Linked DNA regions of Homo sapiens. The protein of the gene in region 3 purifies or fractionates together with the protein of the main gene of each other region. This does not show direct contact. Each region holds a gene or a part of one and is shown on either strand. Other genes may lie near its edges.

Region 1 (2,761 bases), on a different chromosome or scaffold from region 3:
TGAGGTGGGTAGATCACGAGGTCAGACCATCCTGGCCAACATGGTGAAACCCCGTCTGTACTAAAAATACAAAATCTAGCTGGGCGTGGCAGTGTGTGCCTGTAATCCCAGCTACTCGGGAGGCTGAGGCAGGAGAATCACTTGAACCCGGGAGGCGGAGGTTGCAGTGAGCCGAGATCACGCCACTGCACTCCAGCCTGGTGACAAAGCTAGACTCCATCTCAAAATAATAATAATAATAATAAACAAACAAGTAATTTATACAGAAAAATCCCTGATATTTATAAGGAATGTATCTTTAGATATGTTATAAATCCTTGAATTATTTATAGAATATAATCTATATTTGTATACTTATAATGTATGTTTATAGAATAAAAATGCATGAAACCATGACTGAAAAATACATACGATTTTGTGACATCATGAATGTAGGAGTAATTTTTCAAGTCAATAAAAGAAATTCTTGTGGCAGCCCTTGTTAAAGCAGTTTCAAAATCTCTTTACGTTTCCATATAGAGCAAATGGAAAACTTGTTCTTGCTATAAATCAAAGTCACCACTGCATTTGAACTGTACTTAGTCTTTCATATTCTGCTTTTTTTTTTTTTTTTTTTTTTTTGAGGCTGGAGTGCAGTGGAGCGATCTCGGCTCACTGCAACCTCCGTCTCCCAGGTTCAAGCGATTCTCCTGCCTCAGCCTCCGAAGTAGCTGGGACTACAGGCGCATGCCACCACGCCAGGCTAATTTTTTGTATTTTTAGTAGAGATGGGGTTTCACTGTGTTAGCCAGGGTGGTCTCGATCTCCTGACTTCATGATCCGCCTGCCTCGGCCTCTCATAGTGCTGGGATTACAGATGTGAGCCACTGTGCCCAGCCCATGTTCTGCTTTTAACTTTATCCTAAATGTCCCACCTCTGGCTTAGATCAGTGCCGCCTTAGATCTCTTTCTCTTCTATCACCTGATTAGCACATGGCTGATTTTTTTTCTTAAACAAAGATTCTTTTTCCCCCCATATCACAGGCATTTGTAAACATAAAACCAAAACCAGAGAGTGCAAAGATGTACGGAGAAGAGCATGGTGTGTTCCTTCAAGAGTGAAAAGTCTTTCTCCTCCATACTAGCCTGGCAGGGAGGAGCAGTCAAATCAGCACTTATTAGTAACCCCTGGACTTTTCAGAATCACTTGGTAATAACTGAAGGGCAAATAAATCCATCAAAGTGATGGGTCTCTAATATTCAAAACTGTAAAAAGTTATTAAATTGCAAGGCTGTTATATTCATAATATTTGTTTATAAGTTGGTTGTTTGATACTTGGTACTCTTTTATTCAAAGATGTAATGTTATAAATGATAATTAGTTCCCAGGCTAGTCCACAAACGGTAGGTCAGATATATAACACTCTAGTAAGGAAAGAGCAGCAGACACCACTGGCAAGAAGCTCCTTGTTAACTTTTGTTTTTGAGACAGGGCATGTGAGGACTCACAAGTGGACACTCGGAAATAAACAAGTAACAGAGTAGCTCACCCCTTATCTTGCTAAGCTACCAGAAGTTTCCAAAAGTAATTGCATATTGCCATGTGCAACAATTGTTATGTCTGAATACTCGAATAATGAGCATCATACTATCTTACGGTGATTTGCTTGGAAGTTTGGATGACTATTTGGAAGAAAAGTCATTTCTGTTTTGCAACAGTAATTCACTCTTTCCACAAAGACTGAGCAACTCTAATACTATCTGCCAGCCTCTGGGGATGGGTGAATATTCTTGGGGAACTGACACTCCAGCCAGTGCTCAGGGCTTGTTTTAATCTGACTCTAAATGCAGTCTTCCTTCCTTGTGTGCACTGCAGAGTGGGGCTGCAGAGCAGAAGGGGCCTAAATTGGGTGGGGCTGTAGTAGAGGTAACATGTACATCCCTGTACAGCCAAGCACACATTTCTTCAGTACAGGTGAAGTCATCTGCTTTGTAACTCATTAAAACTAGGCTATCATAGCCATTTCTTTTCTTGTTTGGTTATTTACAAAAGTAACATATCTATTTGTAATAAGTCAAACAATTCAGAATTGTATAAAGAGAAAAAGATAATCTTCATGCCCCTTTCCAATCTCATCACTCTAAATTAACTAATAGTAAATAATTTGGTTATACAAGGTTTTTCATTCTCCTCCTTTTTTTTTTTAATAGGGAAAAGTTGAAAACAGGAACACAGATGTGGAATGACATGCATTGGACCTTCTATTATCAAAAGGGAATAAGATGCGGAAGAGATAAGACAGAGAAAAAACTGTGAAAGCAAGACTTTCTCATCAGGCTACCCCCTGACTGCTTCTCCTGTGTCATCACTGCTGCTGCTGCTTTTTTTTTTTTTTCTTTTTTGAGACAGAATCTCACTCTGTCAACCAGGCTGGAGTGCAGTGGCACGATCACGGCTCATTGCAACCTCTGCCTCCTGGGCTCAAGTGATTCTCAAACCTCAGTCTTCCAAGTAGCTAGAATTACAGACACGCACCACCACACCCAGCTAATTTTTGTATTTTTACTAGAGACAGGGTTTTGCCATGTCGGCCAGGCTGGTCTCGAACTTCTGACCTCAAGTGATCCATCTGCTTGGGCCTCCCAAAGTGCTGGGATTACAGGCATGAGCCACTGTGCCCAGCCCATCACTGCTTCTTCTAAACCACCTGGTGTGACATCCCCTCCTAAGATGGAAGTGAGGAAAAGGGCACTTGCCTATTCAGAGGACTCCTGCTTTGCC
Region 2 (3,500 bases), on a different chromosome or scaffold from region 3:
AATCTAATATTATATACAGTTTGTGCACATTGGTGGCAGAATTGAGAATCAGCCTGGGTTTAAGAATTTCCATAGGGAATTGATGTGAATCAGTCTGTATGTGTAAATGTACAGAACCCAATTACTGAGATAAAAACCATGCTGTGGGGGAAGGGGAGATAGGGGCCCTCTGAGAAGATGGAATGGTGAAGGCTGCGAGTAGTTTGTGGATATATCAGTCATATCTTGGCATAATCCAACAGCGTACTAAGGGATCAAGGGACTATTTTCAAGGCTGAGCAGGTTTAAGGAAAACATCTAGGTGAAACATCTAAGGGCTAGCTAGCAATAGGAGAGCCATTATCACTCTTTTTTTTTTTTTTTTGTCATGGCAATTTCACTGAAGCTTTTATTGCCTCTATTGGTAATATGACAGGGACTGTAAGAAACACAATTGAACTTACAGAGATATGCAGATGATATTCACTAAAGATAATCTTCATCTCAAGTATTTTTTATATGTGGGCACTTCTAATTTTATACATTTTTCTATTTAAAAAGCATTACATTTTAAAATTTGTACCTGTTTTGACATTTGGCAAAAAGGAAACTGTACCTATGGTTCAGTTTAAAACAAAGAATCAGCATGGGGAGTTTACCGGAATGAGGACTGAAACACTTAGGAGTTAAAGCAATTCAAGGGGCGTGTGTGTGTCTCTCCCTTTCTCCGTCAATCTCTCTCACTCTCTCTGGCTCTCTCACAGACACAGACTCAAACACACACAGCCATATGTGTAATCATTTTTTAGTACAAAATATTCCCTGTAGCCAGACATTTATCTTCAGAATAATCACACCACATTAAATCAGTCTTCTCTTTTCAGCCCTAGTAAAAGTTTTGTTTAATTCTAAGATGCCATCATAGTGAACAACCTTAACTTTTATCCTACATAATTATATTCAAAGCTTTATGTATTTTTGTTTATAATTACACAGTAATTATAAATGTTTAGTACCAACCTGATGACAAACACTATTTTGTTGAAAAGGTTTTGCATTTAAAAAGAAAAATATGTAAAATCCAAGGCACTAGGCCACGAACCAATATCAGACTTTTAAAGAAAACACTTTATATTGAAAAAAAAAAAAAAAAAAAGCTAATGGGATCTCATTTCAAAACACAGCATATGTGAATTAATCAATCTGAAACCAATAACCATAACTCAAAATCTTCAAGACAGGAAACAAAACAGTACATATATATAGATATATAGATATATATATCTTTTAAAAATTTTTCATAATTGAAGTTCCTCTTTATATTTACAAAAAAATCAGGAAATACTGAAAGCAGCAAGATTCTTCTTTTTCCTTTTTCTTTTAATAACCAATTCCAGTAGCCTGAATAGAAATTTTCAGATTTTTCTTTTGGTAAAACTGCATTCTTGAATTAAAGTTATGATTGGAATATTGATATGTCTATAGGGAAAGCTTTCTAGTCTATTTCAAAATCATGTAAATAAAAAGCAGTTTTGATATGTCATTGTTTCTTAAAATAATTTCCATATTTGCATAAAATGTACTGCTATTCTAAGTACATTCCTTTGTTAATATCAACCCTAGACCTTAGAGAGTGCCTGGATATATATCCCAAGCAGAATCTGTTCCTATCAAAAGACCATAATCATCGAACATTTGAAGCATTACATTTCTAGCCTGCCTTACGGAAATGTTTAAGAAAGCAAGAAACCCTTCTTCACATGTCAGTAAGTGAACAGGGAAATGACCATTTTCAGCATAAAAGCAGCTCATGGGTCTTGTAATGAAAAAAATACATACAAGATAGCATTCTGCTTTGATGAGAAAACTGAGCTAATCTGAGTGAAACAAAAACAGTAAAGAGACTAGAAGCCAGATTGGTATTTTGCATCATGTATGCTTGTTTGAAAATCTTTGCTCCTGAAGTAAATATTTGGCAACCAAGTGATTAGCGACCACAATTTCAACAAAATAATAAGTCATTGAAAATGGACTATTTGTCTGAAAGAGCAATACCTATATTACAAAGATTGAACTTCATGGCTCATTACAACCATTTTCAAAATTTAACTGCAACTATCTTCTTATAAATTAAGAGAGTTTAATTTGTGTTCCATAGTGCGATGACAAAAAAAAAGTAAAAACAAAACAAAAAAACCCTCATGCCTAAATTTAGAATATTGTATTATGTAGCAATCCAAAACATTCAAAACAAATTAAATAGTTTAACTTATGTGACAGGCAGATAAGCATTTCAAAAGCATAATGAAGTCCAATTATGTAGTGCTTAATGTAGACAGGAGAAGAATCTAACATTATGCAGACATTTTCTAAATAAAAGCTCCCTGTAGGACAGCTATATATAAACATGGGTAAGGTAAGCGCAGACTAGTTCTGTGGAACCTTTTGAAATCAAGAGTCTAAAACACAATACATTTTTCAGGTAGGCACCAAGTTATCCTAAAAAATTTTCATGTTGGTTATTCTGACGTTGTTTTTTCTCTTTTTTTTTTTTTTTGAGACAAGTCTTGCTCTGTCGCCCAGGCTAGAGTGCAGTGGCTCGATCTCGGCTCACTGCAACCTCCGCCTCCTGGGTTCAAGTGATTCTCCTGCCTCAGCCTCCCAAGTAGCTGGGATTACACTCTTAAGCCTGTGAGAGGGCAAGGAAGGGAGTAGTTTCTGGAACTTTGAGAGAGTTGAGATGAAGGAGAAGGTAACCTGTAGGAATGCCAGCCAGTGACCCAGTAGGAAAGGCATCAAGGGGAATAAATACTTCAAACTCTTTTGCTACCCTCTGATCTCCTGCTGTAGCCTCCCATTGGTCTAATACAACTGGAAACCAGAGGTTAAGGAGTCTGGTTGATTTAATTCAGAGGGTGGAATCCGGAGGCACATAGCCGAGCTGGAAAATGCTGGATGGAGGATCTGGAGGAGGAGATCATCTGGAGGGGAGAACATCCAGCATGCTGGAGTTGAGAGGTCTAGTTTGTCTTAAAAGGCACAAATGAGGAGATAATTCTTGAACAGAATCTTGAAGGTGGATAGCATATGGATTATAGAAAGGGAATGTTCCCACTGATTTTAACAGGATAGATTCAGAGGCACACAGTTGCCACAGCTTTGGCAAGCCCAAAGCTGCTTTGTTCCAGTAGTAGCCTTAGAATCTTAATTGCCTGGAGGGCCTTTAAAAGTACTGCAGTCCAGCTTTCTTGCTGCCTAGGAATCCCTCTACAATGCCCTGTCAGGAGTGAGTGCTACATACTTTCTCAGGGGGTTCTTTCCACTGTTGGACAGCTTTAATTTTTAGAAAATTTTTCATGTGTCCAGATCACTGAATGCATCAGCTAGAATTAGGTTTGAGTGTATATAACAGAAAAACCTAAAGTAATAGAGATTTTTTAAAAGACATAAATATATTTCTTTAAGAGAAAACTGGCCTGGCGCGGTGGCTCACGCCTGTAATCCCAACACTTTGGGAGGCC
Region 3 (3,500 bases):
TACCCTACAAAATGAGGAAAGCTTTATTACACACCAAGCAGAAAACAATAGGAGAGGTATGCTGAGAGTGCAAGGCTTGGAGTTCAAACTTTGGAATAAAAAAGATGCGAATGGCCAGGCGCGGTGGCTCACGCCTGTAATCCCAGCACTTTGGGAGGCCAAGACGGGTGGATCACAAGGTCAGGAGATCAATACCAACCTGGCCAACATGGTGAAACCCCGTCTCTACTAAAAATACAAAAATTAGTTGGGCATGGTGGCATGCACCTGTAGTCCCAGCTACTCGGGAGGCTGAGGCAGGAGAATCTCTTGAACACAGGAGGCGGAGGTCACAGTGGGCCGAGATCTCACCACCGCACTCCAGCCTGGGGACAGAGTGAGACTCCATCTCAAAAAAAAAAAAAAAAAAAAAAAAAGCCAATGAATGCGAGGTGTGCAATGGACCGTGCCTGTAATCCCAGCACTCTGGGAGGCAGAGGTGGGAGGACAGCTCAAGCCCAGGAGTTCAAGCCACCCGAGGAGATCCCATCCCTACAAAAAAAAAAAAAAAAAAAAAAAAAAAAAATCGACAAGGTATGGTGGTGCGTACCTGCGGCCTGTGGTCCCAGCTACTTGGGCAGCTGAGGTAGGAGGATCCCTTGAGCCCAGGAAGTCAAGAGGCTGCAGTGAGCCCAAATCGCGCCACTGCACTCCAGCCTGGGTGACAGAGTAAGACCACCCCCTCCGCCATTCAAAAAAAAAAGAACAGCATATATAGTATATAATCATTTGTGTTAGAAAATGAGGGGGATGAAGGGGAAAAAGAAAATATTTGCTCACATAAAATTTTGCTGGAGAGACACAAGAAACTGCTAACACTAGTAGACGGGGGATAGTAACGGGAGGAAGACACTGCATATAATTTTGAATCTTATGACTTAGTATCTGCTGATAAAATAATAAAATTTAAAACTTTTACTCAAGTATTCTTATACTATTTTTCTATGGCTGGGCGTGGTGACTCACGCCTGTAATCCCAACACTTCGGGAGGTCGAGGAGGGCAGACTGCTTGAGATGAGGAGTTTGAGACCAGCCTGGCCAATGTGGTGAAACCCCACCTCTACTAAAAATACAAAAATTAGCCAGGCATGGTGGCGTGCACCTTTAATCCCAGCTACTCGGGAGGCTGAGCCAGGACAATCACTTAAATCCAGGAGGTGGAGGTTGCAGTGAGCCGAGATCGTGCCACTGCATTCCAACCTGGGTGACACAGTGAGACTCCATCTCAAAAAAAAAAAAAGATTCTTAACACTATTTATCTAATAAAAATGTGAGGAAATATACAGATTAGATTCTATTTCAAACCAGTTTACCTGTTTTGTTTAAAAATGAGCTCAATTTATATACATATACAAATATATGTGATGTGTATACACACACACACACACACATACAAAACACACATTGTTTTTGTTTAGACAGTATCTCACTTTGTCACCCAGACTTCAGTGCAGTGGCACAATCATGGCTTGCTGTTGCTTCCACCTCTGAGGCTTAGGCAACCTCCCACTGCAGCCCCACCCAAGTAGCTGAAATCACAGATGCACCATCATGCCTGGCTAATTTTCTTTTTTGTAGGGAACAGTTTCTCTTATGTTGCCTCCCTGGCTCAAGCCATCCTCACACCTCAGCCTCCCGAGTAGCTGGAACTATAGGCACACACCACCAGACCTGGCTAGTATTTTTGTGTTTTTTTATAGTTTTGTCATATTGCCCAGACTGGTCTCCAATTCATGATCTCAAGCAACCTCCTGCCTTGGCCTCCCAAAGTTCTGGGATTATAGATGTGAGCCATTGCACCCAGCCCCATTCTATTCTCTAGTTCTGTGAGGTCTATAATTTTTCCTAGATTCCACATATAACTGAGATCATATGGTATTTCTTTATGTGTCTGGCTTATTTCACTTTACATACTATCCTCCAGGCTCAACCATGGAATCACAAATGGAGGATTTAATTCTTTTTTATGGCTCAACAGTATTCCATTGTGTGTGTGTGTGTGTGTGTGTGTATACATATATATTTTTTCTTTACCCATTCATCTGTTAATGGATACTATAATAATTACCTTAATTGTGGATAGTTTCACAAATGTATATATATTTCAAAAATACCATGTCTTATGCTCTAAATGTGTGCACTGGCCGGGTGTCGTAGCTCATGCCTGTAATCCCGGCACTTTGGGAGGCCGAGGCAGGTGGATCATCTGAGGTCAGGAGTTCAAGACCAGCCTGGCCAACATGGTAAAACCCTATCTCTACCAAAAAATACAAAAATTAGCCAGGCATGGTGGCAAAGGCCTGTAGTCCCAGCTACACGGGAGGCTGAGGTGGGAGAATCACTTGAACCTGGGAAGCAGAGGTTCCAGTGAGCCAAGATTGCACCACTGCACTCCAGCCTGCGCAACAGAGACTCCATCTCAAAAAAAAAAAAAAGGTGCAGTTTACTGCACATCAATTATATCACAAAAAAGTTGTTAAAAGGGAAGAGATGTGACTTTTCTTACCAACCCCCTTCCTTCTTGTTGCATGGAACAAGGATGTGATAGCTGAAGGTCAAGCAGCCACCGTGAACCATAAGATAACCAGAAGATAAACTATGCACTGAGGAAGGTGGAACAGAAAGAGAATATCCTGAGCCTCTAATGTCACTGTGAAGTTGCTATGAGAGCTGTGGACTGCCTAGACTTCCTGTATGTGTGACAAAAAATAAACTCAAGTTTTTTTTTTTTTTTTTTGAGATGGCGTCTTGCTCTGTTGCCCAGGCTGGAGTGCAGTGGCACGATCTCAAATCACTGCAAGCCCCGCCTCCTGGGTTCACACCATTCTCCTGCCTCAGCCTCCTGAGTAGCTGGGACTACAGGCGCACGCCGCCACACCTGATTTTTGTATTTTTAGTAGAGACGGGGTTTCACCGTGTTAGCCAGGATGGTCTCAATCTCCTGACCTTGTGATCCGCCCACCTCGGCCTCCCAAAGTGCTGGGATTACAGGCGTGAGCCACTGCGCCCGGCCTTAAACTTAAGTTTTTAACCCATTTCTTTGTTGCTATTGCTTTCTATATAGTGTTTTTGTTTTTATGGTGGCCACATATTACTTCAAAAATTAGATTTAAAAAACAAACAAAAAAAATGCTAGGAAGCATGACAATCAGCAAAGTACTGAATTGTTTATAAATGTGGCAAGAGAGTTAAATTCATAATGGATGATTCAAAAGAAAGGGGGTGAGGGGCTGATACCGAGAAAGGTAAAATGATGATAGTTCTAGGCTGGGAGTGATGGCTCACGCCTATAATCCTAGCACTTTAGGAGGCTAAGGTGGGAGGATCACTTGAGCCCAGGAGTTCAAGACCAGCCTGGGCAACAAGTGACAAAAAACACAAAAAATTAGTCAAGCATGGTGGCAAGGGTCTGTATTCCCAACTACTCAGGATGCTAAACTGGGAGGATCACTTGAGGCCA
Region 4 (3,500 bases), on a different chromosome or scaffold from region 3:
AATAGACAATTATCAAAAGAAGATACACAAATGGCCAACAAACATGAAAAAATGCTCAACATCACTAATGATCAGGGAAATGCAAAGCAAAACCACAATGTGATACCACCTTACTCCTGCAAGAATGGCCATAATCAAAAAATCAAAAAACAGTAGATGTTGGCAGCCAGGCACGGTTGCTCATGCCTGTAATCCCAGCACTTCCGGAGGTTGAGGTGGGCAGATCACCTGAGGTCAGGAGTTCAAGACCAGCCTGGCCAACATGGTGAAACCCCATGTCTACTAAAAATACAAAAATTAGTCGGGCATGGTGGCAGGCACCTGTAATCCCAGCTACTTAAGGAGGCTGAAGCAGGAGAATCACTTGAACCTGGGAAGCGGAGGTTGCAGTGAGCCAAGATTGTGCCACTGCACCCCAGCCTGGGCAACAGAGTGAGCCTTTGACTTAAAAAAAGAAAAAAAGCCGGGCACAGTGGCTCACACCTGTAATCCCAGCACTTTGGGAGGCCGAGATGGGCGGATCACCCGAGGTCGGGAGTTTGAGACCAGCCTGACTAACATGGAGAAACCACGTCTCTACTAAAAATACAAAATTAGCTGGGTATGGTGGCGCATGCCTGTAATCCCAGCTACTCGGGAGGCTGAGGCAGGAGAATCACTTGAACCCGGGAGGCAGAGGTTGCAGTGAGCCGAGATTGCGCCATTGCACTCCAGCCTGGGCAACAAGAGCGAAACTCCATCTCAAAAAAAAAACAATGTTGGCATGGATGTGGTGAACAAGGAACACTTCTATGTCCTGGTGGGAAAGCAAACTAGTATAGCCACTATGGAAAACAGCGTGGAGATTCCTTAAAGAACTAAAAGTAGAACTACCATTTGATCAAGCAATCCCACTACTGGGTATCTACCCAGAGGAAAAGAAGTCATTATACAAAAAAGATACTTTCACACATAATTTTATAGCAGCACAATTCACAACTGCAAAATCATGGAACCAACCCAAATGCCCATCAATCAACGAGTAGATAAAGAAACTGTGGTATATACAGGATGGAATACTATGCAGCCATAAAAAGGAATGGATTAACAGCATTTGCAGTGACCTGGATGAGACTGGAGACTATTATTCTAAGTGAGGTAACTCAGGAATGGAAAACCAAACATCGTATGTTATCACTGATATGCAGGACTAAGTTATGAGGATGCAAAAGCATAAGAATGATACAATGGACTCCGGGTACTTGGGGGGAAGAATGAAAGAGGGGCAAGGGATGAAATACTACAAATATGGTGTAGCGTATATTGCTCGGGTGATAGGTGCACCAAAATCTCACAAATCACCACTAAACTGGCACAGTGGCTCACGCCTGTAATCCCAACACTTTGGGAGGCCGAGGTGGGCAGATTACTTGAGTTCAGGAGTTCAAGACCAACCTGGCCAACGTGGTGAAACCCTGTCTCTACTAAAAATGCAAAAAGTAGCCGGGCATGGTGGCACATGCCTGTAGTTCAGCTACTTGGGAGGCTGAGGAAGGAGGATGGCTTGATCCCAGAAGGTGGAGATTGCAGTGAGCTGAGATAGCACTACTGCACTCCAGCCAGGGTGACAAAGCAAGACTCCGTCTCAAAAAACAAACAAACAAAAAAACTTGCTCATGTAACCAAATACCACTTGTACACCAATAACTTATGGAAAAATTTAAAAAAATTAAAAATAAACATCTAAACATAGAAAAGGAAAAAAAAATTTAAAATAAAAAACAGAAATGTGAAAAAAATAAATAAATCAGGTATGCTATCAGTCAAAAAATAAATAAGTAAACCCACCATTATCAATAATCATTAAACGTAAATAATCTCAGTAACTCAATTAATTTTCTTTTCTTTTTTTTTTTTTTTTTGAGATAGAGTCTCACTCTGTCACCCAGGATGGAGTGCAGTGGCACAATCTCAGCTCACTGCAACCTCCGCCCCCTGGGTTCAAGCAATTCTTGTGGCTCAGCCCCCCAAGCAGCTGGGACTACAGGCACATGCCACCACGCCTGGCTATTTTTTTGTATTTTTAGTAGAGACAGTTTCGCCATGTTGGCCAGGCTGGTTTTGAACTCCTGGCCTCAAGTGATCCACATGCCTTGGCCTCCCAAAGTGCTGGGATTACAGATGTGAGCCACCATGCCTGGCTTCAATAATTCAACTCAAAGACACGAACTGTCTGATTAAACAGCAAGACCCATTTATATGCTGCCTATAAGAAATTCACATTAAATATAAATAAGGGAAAGTAATAGTATTGAAAAACACATACCATGCTAACCCCTTAATCAATAAAGCTGGACTGGCTGCATCAATACCAAAGGACATTTTAGAACAAAAAAAAATTACTAAGGATAAAGGGGGCCATTTCATAACGATAACAAGCCAATTCATTTAGAGGATATAATAATAATCTAATATTTTAATCCATAAAACATGTATTCACATAAACTGATTGTCAGAATACATGAAACAAAAACTAATAGAACTGCAAGTAGAAAACAGTCACTCAAGAAAAAAATAAGTGGCCGGGTGTGGCGGCTCATGCTTGTAATCCCAGAACTTTGGGAGGCCGAGGCGAGCAGATCACGAGGTCAGGAAATTGAGACCATCCTGGTTAACACGGTGAAACCCTGTCTCTACTAAAAATACAAAAAATTAGCCGGGCATGGTGGTGGGCACCTGTAGTCCCAGCTACCTGGGACGCTGGGGCAGGAGAATGGTGTGAACCCAGGAGGCAGAGCTTGCAGTGAGCTGAGATCGCACCACTGCACTCCAGCCTGGGCAACAGACCGAGACTCCATCTCAAAAAAAAAAAAAAAGAAAAAAATAAGTAACACAAATATCTCTAATCTATTAAACAAAGTAAATTTGTAGTCAAAAATCTTCCTACAAAGACAAGTGCAGGCTCAGATGAATTCTACCAAAAATTTAAGTTGGGTATAAAATGTCAATCCTGTATAAATTCTTTCAGAAAACTGAACAGAATACTTCAGAAATCATTCTGAAGCTACATTACTGATTCCAACACCAAAACATTACAAGAAAACTACAACTATCCCATGAACATAAGTTCAAAAATTCTCAACAAAATTTTAGCAAATCAAATCCAACAAAATATAATTAGAATAGTATATTGTGACCAAGTTCAGTTTATCCCAGGAATGTAAGTCTAATTTCATAATTGAAAATCAATGTCATTCACCACATTGGCAGACTAAAAATGAAAAACCACCTATTTCAATATATGCAGTAAAAAAGCATTTGAAAAATATCCAACATCCAACCCTGATAAAACCTCTCAGCAAATGAGAAATCAAAGAGAACTTCCACAACGTGATAAAAAGCACCTACAAAAAACCTACAGCTAAGATCAGACTTAATGGTGAAAGACTAAATGTTTTCCCCAGAAGATCAAACACAAAGCAATAATGCCCACTTTACCACTACAATTCAAAATTCTGCTA
Region 5 (3,500 bases), on a different chromosome or scaffold from region 3:
TTCGTCAAAGAAAAGGATTTTATATCTAAAAGGAAAACAACTCTATACATAGGTTATATGATATTTTGGTGGAGTTTTTAATCCTAAACCTTAAAAAAAAATGTTTAACTGGAGGTGGTGGCAATCAGGAAAACTCTCCTAAGAAACTGATTTTAAATTGAGTTGTGAAAAATGAACAAGAATTCAGTAGACCTGGGGATAGGGAAGATGGGAGAAATTCTAGAGAGAACAGCATGTACGATGGCCTAGAAGACAAAAAAAAAAGTACAGCTTAGCCTACCTTAGGTATATCTTAAGCCAGTGTTATTCAAACTTGTTAACCACAACCTGTGACACTTTACTGGATGCAGTACACACACCTGTGTGTATGTATACATGTGTGCAAGTACCCATTCCTATCTGACCTGTCACTATCTGAACTCTCACTACTATCAAAACTCTTACTATCCAACTAAGATTCCTAACAGATTCAGATAAATTATTTTTAGGATAGAGCTGGTATCCCTCCTGCAGCAGAGAATGTTGGAGCATTCACATCTGCAACCTTCTCAGGACTGCCCCTGGCCATGGTAGCCCTTTGCTGTTTTCCTTGCTGCTGTCCCTCTCCCAACTACTACAGTAACCAATGACTGAAAAAGGGCATGAAAGCCCAGCTCCCTTGCCTCCAAGGCACAATAAACTGTATGTACCATGTGGTACACCAGAGCTGATTAGGTTAAGACCTGAAACCACATCCTTGCTCAGATTTTTCCCCTCCCGTCTCCTATTTTCCTTACTCTCTTAAGGGTTTTTTTTTTCTTTTCCTAAAGGCAATCTATTAATAAACCACCCAAATTACATGCAGTTCTAGTGACCAGCTCTTACTCTCTAATACTGTGCCCAAATAAAAGGAACCAGGGCTTCTCAGAGAAATAACTAATTGTATGGATTGGCCAGGGTAGGTACAAGATGAAGCAGTGATACCTTGTGTGAGGGAATAAAAAGGAAATGCTCAAAAAAATGGTGAGAGTATATGACAAAGATCCAGAAGCTAGCTTAAAGGGAACTCTGGCCAAATCTGGGGAAATTTGAACACAAAAAATACTTATGTACATTAACAGAGTACAAACGATTGAAAATACAGCAGTTCATGAGTCCTTACCAAAAATACCAATAATAAATTCATAAATCAATGAAAATGAAACAAAGCAATCTCTTGCTTACAGTAAAATGTCAACAACCATCTAGTAAATGTGAAGGGAGTGTGCTGGAGGTAGAAAATCATTATTTTGCAACCATTATGGGAAAGACTGAATCAGGTAAAAAAAAAAAAAAAAAAAATCAATGGACCCCAAATCAAAGAGAAATATTTGATGAGAAGCAAATATTTACAAGGTCTTAACCTTCCCACAGATTAGTTACTAATTGCAAAACAGAGAAAATACGGCAACAAAACAGGGCAAAACCTTGAGTGGGTAATCAAAATTAACATCACCTACGAGAGACAGATACCCATGTACCTCCAGATGGGATACTCTGGAAAGACACATCATGTATGCAGTATGTGGCTGAGATCAAGGTTATTCTTGATCTAAACAAAAGTCAGATCAACACAAAATAAGGAGAGTTCTGTTTGTCACTCCGTTACCTAAAAACTTGCAGTGTCTTCCCATTGTTCTTAGTATAAAATTCAAAATCCTTGAAATGGTTTACAGATCATTTCATGCTTCAAAACTGAAATCCCAACCCCCAACCCACTGCCATGGCACATACTCCTCTTTGATCTCAATTCTTCTTTCTTATTGTCTTTGCTTAAGCCTGTGTTTTTCAAATTTCACAGAGCAACCATCAGAGAGTTGTTAATCCGATGAGACAAAAATAATGTATTTTCTATGGCAAATATGCTTTTAATTTATAAATATACAAAATGTAGATGTTAGGTCTTTTTTTTTTTGTTCTGAGCCACCAACGTAATTTATGTCTAAGAAGATACTCTAGAGATATGGCGGCAATAATAAAATCAAAATTTTTCTTATAGGCCAGGCAGGGTGGCTTATGCCTATAATCCCAGCACTTTGGGAGGCCGAGGTGGGCAGATTACTTGAGCCCAGGAGTTCAAGTGCTCCTGAGCAAGGAGTTCAAGTGCAGCCTAAGCGACATGGTGAAACCCCATCACTAAAAAAAATAAAAAATTTTTCTAATCAACTCCACAACCTTTTACATATTAAACATACAATGCTCAAAAAAGATTCTTCAAGTTTGTTTACATGTCTAACTTAAAATTTTCTAGTAAATGTAAGGGCTAGTACTGTTCCTGTACCCCTAAAGGTAATTTACCTACATTCCCACAGGAACCACTGAAAGAACCCCAACTTGGAGTACTGCAACCCAAATGTTCCAAGAACATCCATAATTAAATCTTCCCAAGACACATATACCTTAAACACCTTCTCATGGAATGTCATGAAATTCTTGAACCCACTTTCCACCCCCTAAGCCCTATCTCTGTCCCATCTTCCTCCTTTTATTAAGTTCCCGGAAAAAAACAGCAATAGAAGGACACAGGGACACACACACACCTGATTAAGGAAACTTCCCTTAGGCTGCCATGCCCCATTCTGCATAAGTAGAGAATGAATCTATGTTGACAGAGGGAAGAGAACCTAACTAAAAAGGGGAAAGGTCAAAGAAGGGAGAAAGGAATTACTTTAGTTGATAGAGAAAGTGAAAAATCAAATTTATCAGGTGCAGGTTCCTATGGGCCATCATCTGAGAATATAATCATGTCTGAAAATTTGTCCGGAACATGGCAATAAGCAAAGATTGCTGTTATTACTGCTACATTAACAAAAAAAAGGAAAATAATGTAAATAAAACTATGTATAAGCATGTAACCTGCATTTTTTCGCTGGGTTCACAGTTTCTTGAGGAAAACAGAGACCCTACAAAGTTAATTAAAAGTTGCTGCCAAATGAAAATCAAGCTTCTATAAAGATCACAGAAAATACAAAATAAACCAATAGGAAAACAGATTTTGCTAAATGAACCTCAATTGGTGTATCTATTATTCACTTACTCAATATGGGCAAATACCATCGTGGGCTGTACAAAGCAGTAAAACATCAAAATGTGAAACTAAGCTTCAACGTATGAACCAAATAAACACGAAATTAAAAAAAAAAAAAAACTGGCTTCCATACATTTTATTCTGGAATTTAAACAGACAAAACAATTTAGGGAAAAAAAAAAAAACCTTCCTACTTGCTGACTCCACTTTTTTACTCTCCATTGCTTCCATTCCTTCCTTTGATGAAGTTTCCAATAATCACATTGTTAGATTTGACCATGACCTTCCACCCAGCTGCTGACGTACAAAAACTGGAATTATCCCTATTTCCTCTTTTTTTTTTTTTTGAGACGAAGTCTCACTCTGTGGCCCAAGCTGGAGTGCAGTGGCGCAACCTCGGCTCACTGCAACCGCTGCCTTCCAGGCTCAAATTCTCATTCCTCAGCCTCCTGAG
Region 6 (3,170 bases), on a different chromosome or scaffold from region 3:
CTGGCCAGTGGGACACCAAACTGCATCCTACATGGGCAATGGCAGGGTAAGAGCGAGGGGAGGCCCACTCTCCCACCCCGTCCCTGTCCTGGGGCCCCCTGCTCCAGGACGCCTTCCCAGGCTGCCTCAGTGCCCCCAAGCTTGCCCTGGCCCTGCCGTTGACTCAGCCCACAGCTGCTCAGAAGGACGTCACTGGTCATTCCAGAGCAAGGAACTCAGGCCTGGTGGGTGGGGGCTGGGGAGTCACCCATGGTATAGAGAGTGAAACCCAAGCTGCCCCACACCCCCAGAGAATCTCACTGCAGCCCTCACACACCTGTCGAGGGCGTACTGCCGGGCTGTGTGCAAGCAGAACTCCGAAGCTCCAAGCACGCCCCACGCGATGCCGTACCGGGCGTTGTTCAGGCAGCCGAAGGGACCCTGTAGGGTTGAGATGGCGCCTCAGGCCCACCCAAGAGACACCAAGAGGGCCTATGCAGAACCAACTCTGAAGCAGGGAAAGCCTCCTCCCCAGCCACCCCACGCAGGGGGACTCAGGTTGTGGTTCACATCACAGATGGCCCTGGCACTGAAGCTCGGTGCCTGCTCACTCGGTTTGCACACAGTCCCACCCAGCCTGGCATCTGGGTTCGATGCTCAGAGCCAGGAGGCTGACGGATGCCAGAAGATGCACTGTGAGTCAAATGACTGAGCTGGTTCAGGCCCATGTGTCCCGGGCAGAGCCGGGATGAGCGAGACGGTCACCAAATGGGGGCAGTTTTCAGCACGTCAGCGAGTCCGGCTGAGTAAGAATCACCACTGTGTGGGCTCCACAGGCACAGGGAGCCGCGTCCCCAGCACGGAGCCTGCCTGACAAAGCCGCATCCGCAGGTGACCCAACACCCATTCCCAAAGTGGCTGCCACTTACCCCCAGGCTGGATGCACCAGGGAGCACATTCTCCTCTGGCACCTCCACACCGTCCATGATGATCATGCCTGTGGCTGAGGCCCGCAGCGAGAACTTGCCCTGGATCCTGGGGGCCGAGAGACCCCGCATCCCCTTCTCCAGCAGGAAGCCCCGAATGCAGCCATCTTCACACCGAGCCCACACTACAAACAGATCGGCCATAGGCGAGTTCGTGATCCTGGGGATGGAACAGTCGGTGAGGGGTCTGACCAGTGCCCCTTTGCCCCTGTTCACCACCTGCCCACCACCCAGAACCCTTACCAGGTCTTGGTCCCATTGAGGGTGTAGCTCTTGTTGGATGAGTTGTAGTGGGCTCTGGTCTCCATGCTGCTGGGGTCACTTCCGCTGTTGGGCTCTGTGAGCCCGAAGCAGCCCAGGAGCTCCCCCTTGGCTGCAGGCACAAGACAAAGTCACAAGGCTGCCTGGTCCCTGATACATCCCCTTACTCAAAAATTATCCTCGTGGCGGGGTGCAGTGGCTCACGCCTGTCATCCCAGCACTTTAGGAGGCCAAGGCAGGTGGATCAATTGAGGTCAGGAGTTCCAGACCAGCCTGGCCAACATGGTGAAACCCCATCTCTACTTAAAAAAAAAAAAAAAAAAAAATAGCCAGATGTGGTGGTGGGTGCCTGTAATCCCAGCTACTCAGGAGACTGAGGCAGGAGAATCGCTTGAACCCGGGCAGGAGAGGTTGCAGTGAGCCAAGATCATGCCACTGCACTACAGCCTGGGCAACAGAGCAAGACTCCATCTCAAAAAAGAAAAAAAATCCAGCCTGACCAATATGGTGAAACCCCATCTCTACTAAAAATACAAAAAATTAGGCCAGTCGAGGTGGCTCACACATGTAATCTCAGCACTTTGGGAGGCCAAGGCAGATGGATCACTTGAGGTCTGGAGTTCGAGACCAGCCTGGCCAACATAGTGAAACACCATCTCTACTAAAAATACAAAAATTAGCCAGGCACGGGTAGCAAGCACCTGCAATCCCAGCTAATTGGGAGGCCGAGGCACAGGAATTGCTTGAACTGGGGAACCGCAGGTTGCAGTGAGCCAAGATTGTACCACTGCACTTCAGCCTGGGGGACGGAGCGGGACTTTGTCTCAAAAAAAGAAAAAAAAAATTACCCTCGCCCCTGAGTCAGACCTCATAACTAAGTTAGATCTGGCCCTGCTTTCAAGAGACAGGTTACCCCAAAGTCATGATCACAATGCCAAGATGGGGAGGGGGACCCAGGGAATCAGGAAGGAGTTGGCCAAACTGGAAGGGTGTGAGGAGTTAAGCAGGAGGAGGCTGTGGGGAAGAGCAGTGCTGGGAGAGGGAACAGATGTGTAAAGAACTGGTGGTACTTCTGGAGAATTTCAAGTAGCTAAGTCTGGCTGGGAGGATCACATGAGTGGCCAGAGATGAGGTGGAAAGGTCAGCAGAGGCCTGGTCACACAGGGCCTTGTGGGTTTTTTTTTTTTTTTGCGAATCTGATCTTATTTGTTACTCAAAAAATCTTATTTCTGACTGGATTCAGACTTAGAAGTGGAAGCTCGCAGAGAGGACAGTCTGCGTCTCTTCACGATTTGTCCCTGGTGCTTCTTAGCCTCCTTCATTCTCTTGGCCAAAAGTTTAGCATATTCTGCAGCCTCTTCTTTATTTTTCTTAATATGCGGCTGCTTCAGAGCAATACGCCGCTGTTTGTGCTGCAGGACATGTGGAGTGACAAGGCGCTGAATCTTGGGTGCTTTGGTCCTAGGTTTCTTACCTTCTTTGTTTAAGGGCTTTTTTACAACATACTGGCAGACATCATTTTCTTTAGAGAGACTGAAAAGTTTACGGATTCTGCTAGCTGTACTGGGCCCCAGGTGACGAGGCATCATAGTCTCAGTCAGTCCAGGAATACCCTTCTCTCCTTTTTTTTACAATAACCAAGTTGAGAACACTCAGATTGGCATCCACGATGCAACCATGAACTGATCTTCTCTTTCTTTCTCCAGTTCTCCTTGGTCTGTAATAGGAATGCCCCTTACTCAGTAGCAAGTGGACACGGCCATGGGTCAAGACACCCTGTTTCAAGGGGAAACCTTGTTTATTGTTCCCACCACTGATTCCGACCACGTAACCCTTCCATTCTTCACCCAGAGCGTCAACAGCAACTTCTGTGGCCATACGCTTCTCATAAAAAGTACAAAGTTTGCGTTCATCGTCCACTTCAATGAGTTTCTGGCAGCCAGT
Region 7 (3,500 bases), on a different chromosome or scaffold from region 3:
ATAAGTTAAGCCATGTATATACATTAATACATACATATATGTTCCAATAACATGTTGAAGATTTCCCAGGTTTTTTTTTCTTTAAGTTATTGCTAGACATATCAAAACACAGTATAAAACTGGTCATCACAACACCCTTCTGCAGTAATGATGAGAGTGGGCTAGGAATGTGATGAAAGGCACAGAATTCATAAGACTTGAGTAAGTAGATCCAAATTTGTTATCACTAATGGCTCAAACAATGTGGAGCCACTGATTTTCTGAAGTGAATATAAGAAACAGTAGTTAATAGTATTTATCCAGGCTTCTAGTATAAGACATTGTACTAGGAGTTTCTCAAGTAGAAAACTTGTCTCACAAGGGTAAGTTACATAAAAACTCCAAAGAAGAAAGGGCAACTGATAGAAGATTAGTTCTCCTGTGGCTAGACGGTGCGTTGTACAGCCTTTCCGTTTAGTGAGGTTCTACTAAAGGGAATGCCAACTTTGTGGTTGACATGGGTGATCCTTGGGTTTCGTCACGCATGAAATTAACAAATAAAAAATGTTCAAGGCCAGGTGTGGTGGCTGATGCCTGTAATCCCAATGCTTTGGAGTCTGAGGTGGAAGGATTGCTTGAGGCCACAAATTTGAGACCAGCCTGGGCGAAAGAGCGCAACCCTGTCTCTACCAAAAAAAAACAACAACAAAAAACTTAGCTGAGTGTGGTGGTACCAGCCTGTTGGGAGGCTGCAGTGAGAGGACCATTCGAGCCCAGGAATTTGAGGAAGCTATGCTCATACCACTTGCACTCCAAGACCCCATCTCAAAAAAAGAAAGAAAAAAGAAAAAAAAAGTTTTCAGTTTATGGAATTAAGCAATTAAGCATATTAAAAAGCCAGGGCCTAATAAGTACTATGCTGATCAAGTGCAAAGGAGAGTTCTTAATATGAATAAATGGGTCTTACAAGTCAATTAATTCAAGAGGTTATAAAATACATTTTTTAAAAGAGTTAAGCTTATTTTTCATACAAAGAAAAAATTCCAATCACCCATTGACAATACCCCAATCAGCCAACAGCCCATCAATGCAGAGTCTGCTGCAGTTGTCTGGAAGTTTTCACTTTCTTCTTCCAGAAAAAATGCTCAATTTTCATTGCCAACGTTCTTGGTAGATTCACTCTTCACTAGAAAAAAATAAGTAAACATACAGTCAAGTGTTTATATTTTTCTGTTTAGGTTGCTCTGTCCCTCTTCTCTCCCTCCTTCTGATGTACAGCAAAAGCACTGCTCACAGGGACACACAAACCGCGTCATGTCCCAGGCAGCTAGGATATACAATTCTGGCCACAATAAATAGAGAAATGATGTCTGAAAGTGGCAATTATATTTTGTGAGGTAACATCCTTCCTGACTCTGTGGAAGACTTAGGAATGGTCACTTCACAATGTGGTTATGATCCATATTCATGCCACTGAATAGATCACTATTATCCTGGCCAGCCACTTGTGGTTAGAATAAATTTTTTCCATGATTTTTTTTTAAACTTAATTGAGGGTCAGTATATGTTGAGTGAATGTGGAGTGACAGAAGACTAGCTAATCGCCATCTCCTTCCTTTCACAGGAAAGAAGAATAGAAATGGAGCTCCTCTGACACCCCTGTCTTGCTTAGAGCAAGCAAGACTAACTATGACTCACTCACTAAACTGAGAGTTCCTGGAGGACAGAAACTCGACCTTTCTTCTCTGTATCTATCCTCACAATTTAGAGTATGTTTGCTGAATCAATGTAACTGCAAATCATTCTGCCTTTTAGTGTTTTTTCCCTAAATCTGCAAAATGGGAACCGGAGTAAGTGTTCTATTTCATGGTCTTGTGAAGCTAAAAGGAAATAATAGGTAGTAACTCTTTAAAAATTGTCATGCTAAAATATAGGTTATTTTGAGGCTTATAGCTGTTATCTCCACTGAGTAGATAAGAAAAATAAAGCTCAGAGAGGCAGAGCAAATGCTCAAGGGACCACAGCTTATAAAAGCTGATGCTAGAAGCACACACCTGGAACTGCCTCATATTCCAACTGACAAGTTCCCTGGGGTTTGCTGTTGTACCTAGACTTCAGATTGTACCAGCAACCACAATGGTGTTTACTGAGCCCTTTCTAAGAGTAAGGCACTGAAATAAGTTCCATCCAAGATATCATCCCAATCTTTGTGAAATTTTATGAACTTTAGCAGTCCATCCAGTGCCTCCATGATATTAAAAGTTTTTTTCCTTCTCTGGCTGTCTCTGTACTTCAGGTAAACTCTATTTTAGCATCTATTGTATAATAAGTTTTACATGCGTGTTCCAGTGCCAAAAATCCTCCTCTCTCTCCCTGCAAAAGGAAAAGAAAGAAAAGAGAAGTAAGGAAGAATGAGGAAAGGTGAGCGAGGGAGAATGGATGAAAGATTTACTGGCCCAATAAGAGACTGATATATGAGTAGCTGCTATGCCAGGTATTTTCACTAATTCCAGTAATCAATTTTGGGTTGGATTCCTTCTCTAAAGGCTGAGGCATTTTCTAATCTTGAGTTACACTAGAACATCAAAAAGTTTATTTTGCTGACATTTCTAAATTAATAAAGATTTTTAGCAGTATGGGACATTTTCCCCTTTCTTTGCCTATTGAAGGTGCCCAGTTTTCTTCTTTGAATAGGGTTCCATTCTTTTTTCCTTAGATTGAAATGCAGCATGCTTTTCTCCCTCATCTAAATCTGCTAGTCTAATAACAGCCTGTGAAGCAAGTTACACCATTCTGAGCACTTCCCACTGGACTGATATAAGGTAGGTAATCAGCACTTAGCATCTCCAATCTAGTGGAGTATCTAAATAGCTCTATCTTTTCCAGTTAACCTTTTCCATTACTGAAAAGCAACAAACAAACAAAATCTTGGCTACTGCTGATTAATATAGGCAGACTCAAATAATTATGGCAATCTACAATCATAACAAATATTAGAACAACCATCAGGTGTGGGAACTACTGAATCCCAGACCAGAAACACATGTACCCCCAAATTAGGAAAGAGACAACTTGTACTATAAACTCAGGATCAAAATCCAACTTTTTTACCTCCAGAGAGGGAAGGAATTTCAAGGCTTTCCAAAGAAAATGCCCTCTTCTTACATAATCCCCTTCCCTCATCAAGGTATCACCCTGCAAAATATCTGATGCTGTGAGAATGTATAAAGAAACAGACACCTTGAAGTACTTACAGAAAGAAATGCATGTACAGGAAGACCTGGGCATTACTTTTAAGGTGTGTGTACTTACGATGTGACAAAACTGGTATGGTTTTAAAATCCTGTCAGATACTTTTAGTTCTTTGCTAACACAGTTCTAAATAATCCTCTGTACTAAAAGCATGAGTCATTTGTGTTCCTGTAAATAAGTCAAACATCATATATCCACCAGAAAAATAGCAAATTTTACTCAATAAGGCTCCCAGTACGCTAGTAAAGTAGTCTTTTCTTATTGCTTCA

Evidence for each region.
Region 1: the proteins of BRD8 (region 3) and PKP2 purify together in Homo sapiens (affinity purification with mass spectrometry, with the first as the bait; one large-scale study listed by BioGRID). This does not show direct contact.
Region 2: the proteins of BRD8 (region 3) and SGPL1 purify together in Homo sapiens (affinity purification with mass spectrometry, with the first as the bait; one large-scale study listed by BioGRID). This does not show direct contact.
Region 4: the proteins of BRD8 (region 3) and DDX24 purify together in Homo sapiens (affinity purification with mass spectrometry, with the first as the bait; one large-scale study listed by BioGRID). This does not show direct contact.
Region 5: the proteins of BRD8 (region 3) and CMC1 purify together in Homo sapiens (affinity purification with mass spectrometry, with the first as the bait; one large-scale study listed by BioGRID). This does not show direct contact.
Region 6: the proteins of BRD8 (region 3) and GCDH purify together in Homo sapiens (affinity purification with mass spectrometry, with the first as the bait; one large-scale study listed by BioGRID). This does not show direct contact.
Region 7: the proteins of BRD8 (region 3) and ZNHIT6 purify together in Homo sapiens (affinity purification with mass spectrometry, with the first as the bait; one large-scale study listed by BioGRID). This does not show direct contact.

Annotation. Positions count from the first base shown.
Region 1 is NC_000012.12:32,793,017-32,795,777, forward strand, and holds part of PKP2 (plakophilin-2), read right to left. Parts: intron 1-2,761. UniProt on the Homo sapiens protein: A component of desmosome cell-cell junctions which are required for positive regulation of cellular adhesion.
Region 2 is NC_000010.11:70,822,448-70,825,947, forward strand, and holds part of SGPL1 (sphingosine-1-phosphate lyase 1), read left to right. Parts: intron 1-3,500. UniProt on the Homo sapiens protein: Cleaves phosphorylated sphingoid bases (PSBs), such as sphingosine-1-phosphate, into fatty aldehydes and phosphoethanolamine. Elevates stress-induced ceramide production and apoptosis.
Region 3 is NC_000005.10:138,172,131-138,175,630, forward strand, and holds part of BRD8 (bromodomain-containing protein 8), read right to left. Parts: intron 5-3,500; coding exon 1-4. UniProt on the Homo sapiens protein: May act as a coactivator during transcriptional activation by hormone-activated nuclear receptors (NR). Isoform 2 stimulates transcriptional activation by AR/DHTR, ESR1/NR3A1, RXRA/NR2B1 and THRB/ERBA2.
Region 4 is NC_000014.9:94,071,203-94,074,702, forward strand, and holds part of DDX24 (ATP-dependent RNA helicase DDX24), read right to left. Parts: intron 1-3,500. UniProt on the Homo sapiens protein: ATP-dependent RNA helicase that plays a role in various aspects of RNA metabolism including pre-mRNA splicing and is thereby involved in different biological processes such as cell cycle regulation or innate immunity.
Region 5 is NC_000003.12:28,244,619-28,248,118, reverse strand, and holds part of CMC1 (COX assembly mitochondrial protein homolog), read right to left. Parts: intron 1-3,500. UniProt on the Homo sapiens protein: Component of the MITRAC (mitochondrial translation regulation assembly intermediate of cytochrome c oxidase complex) complex, that regulates cytochrome c oxidase assembly.
Region 6 is NC_000019.10:12,894,160-12,897,329, reverse strand, and holds part of GCDH (glutaryl-CoA dehydrogenase, mitochondrial isoform a precursor), read right to left. Parts: exon of another isoform or gene 2,419-3,170; intron 1,339-2,418; coding exon 1,209-1,338; intron 1,126-1,208; coding exon 909-1,125; intron 421-908; coding exon 317-420; intron 28-316; coding exon 1-27. UniProt on the Homo sapiens protein: Catalyzes the oxidative decarboxylation of glutaryl-CoA to crotonyl-CoA and CO(2) in the degradative pathway of L-lysine, L-hydroxylysine, and L-tryptophan metabolism. It uses electron transfer flavoprotein as its electron acceptor. Isoform Short is inactive.
Region 7 is NC_000001.11:85,652,934-85,656,433, forward strand, and holds part of ZNHIT6 (box C/D snoRNA protein 1), read right to left. Parts: intron 1,166-3,500; coding exon 1,125-1,165; 3' UTR 1-1,124. UniProt on the Homo sapiens protein: Required for box C/D snoRNAs accumulation involved in snoRNA processing, snoRNA transport to the nucleolus and ribosome biogenesis.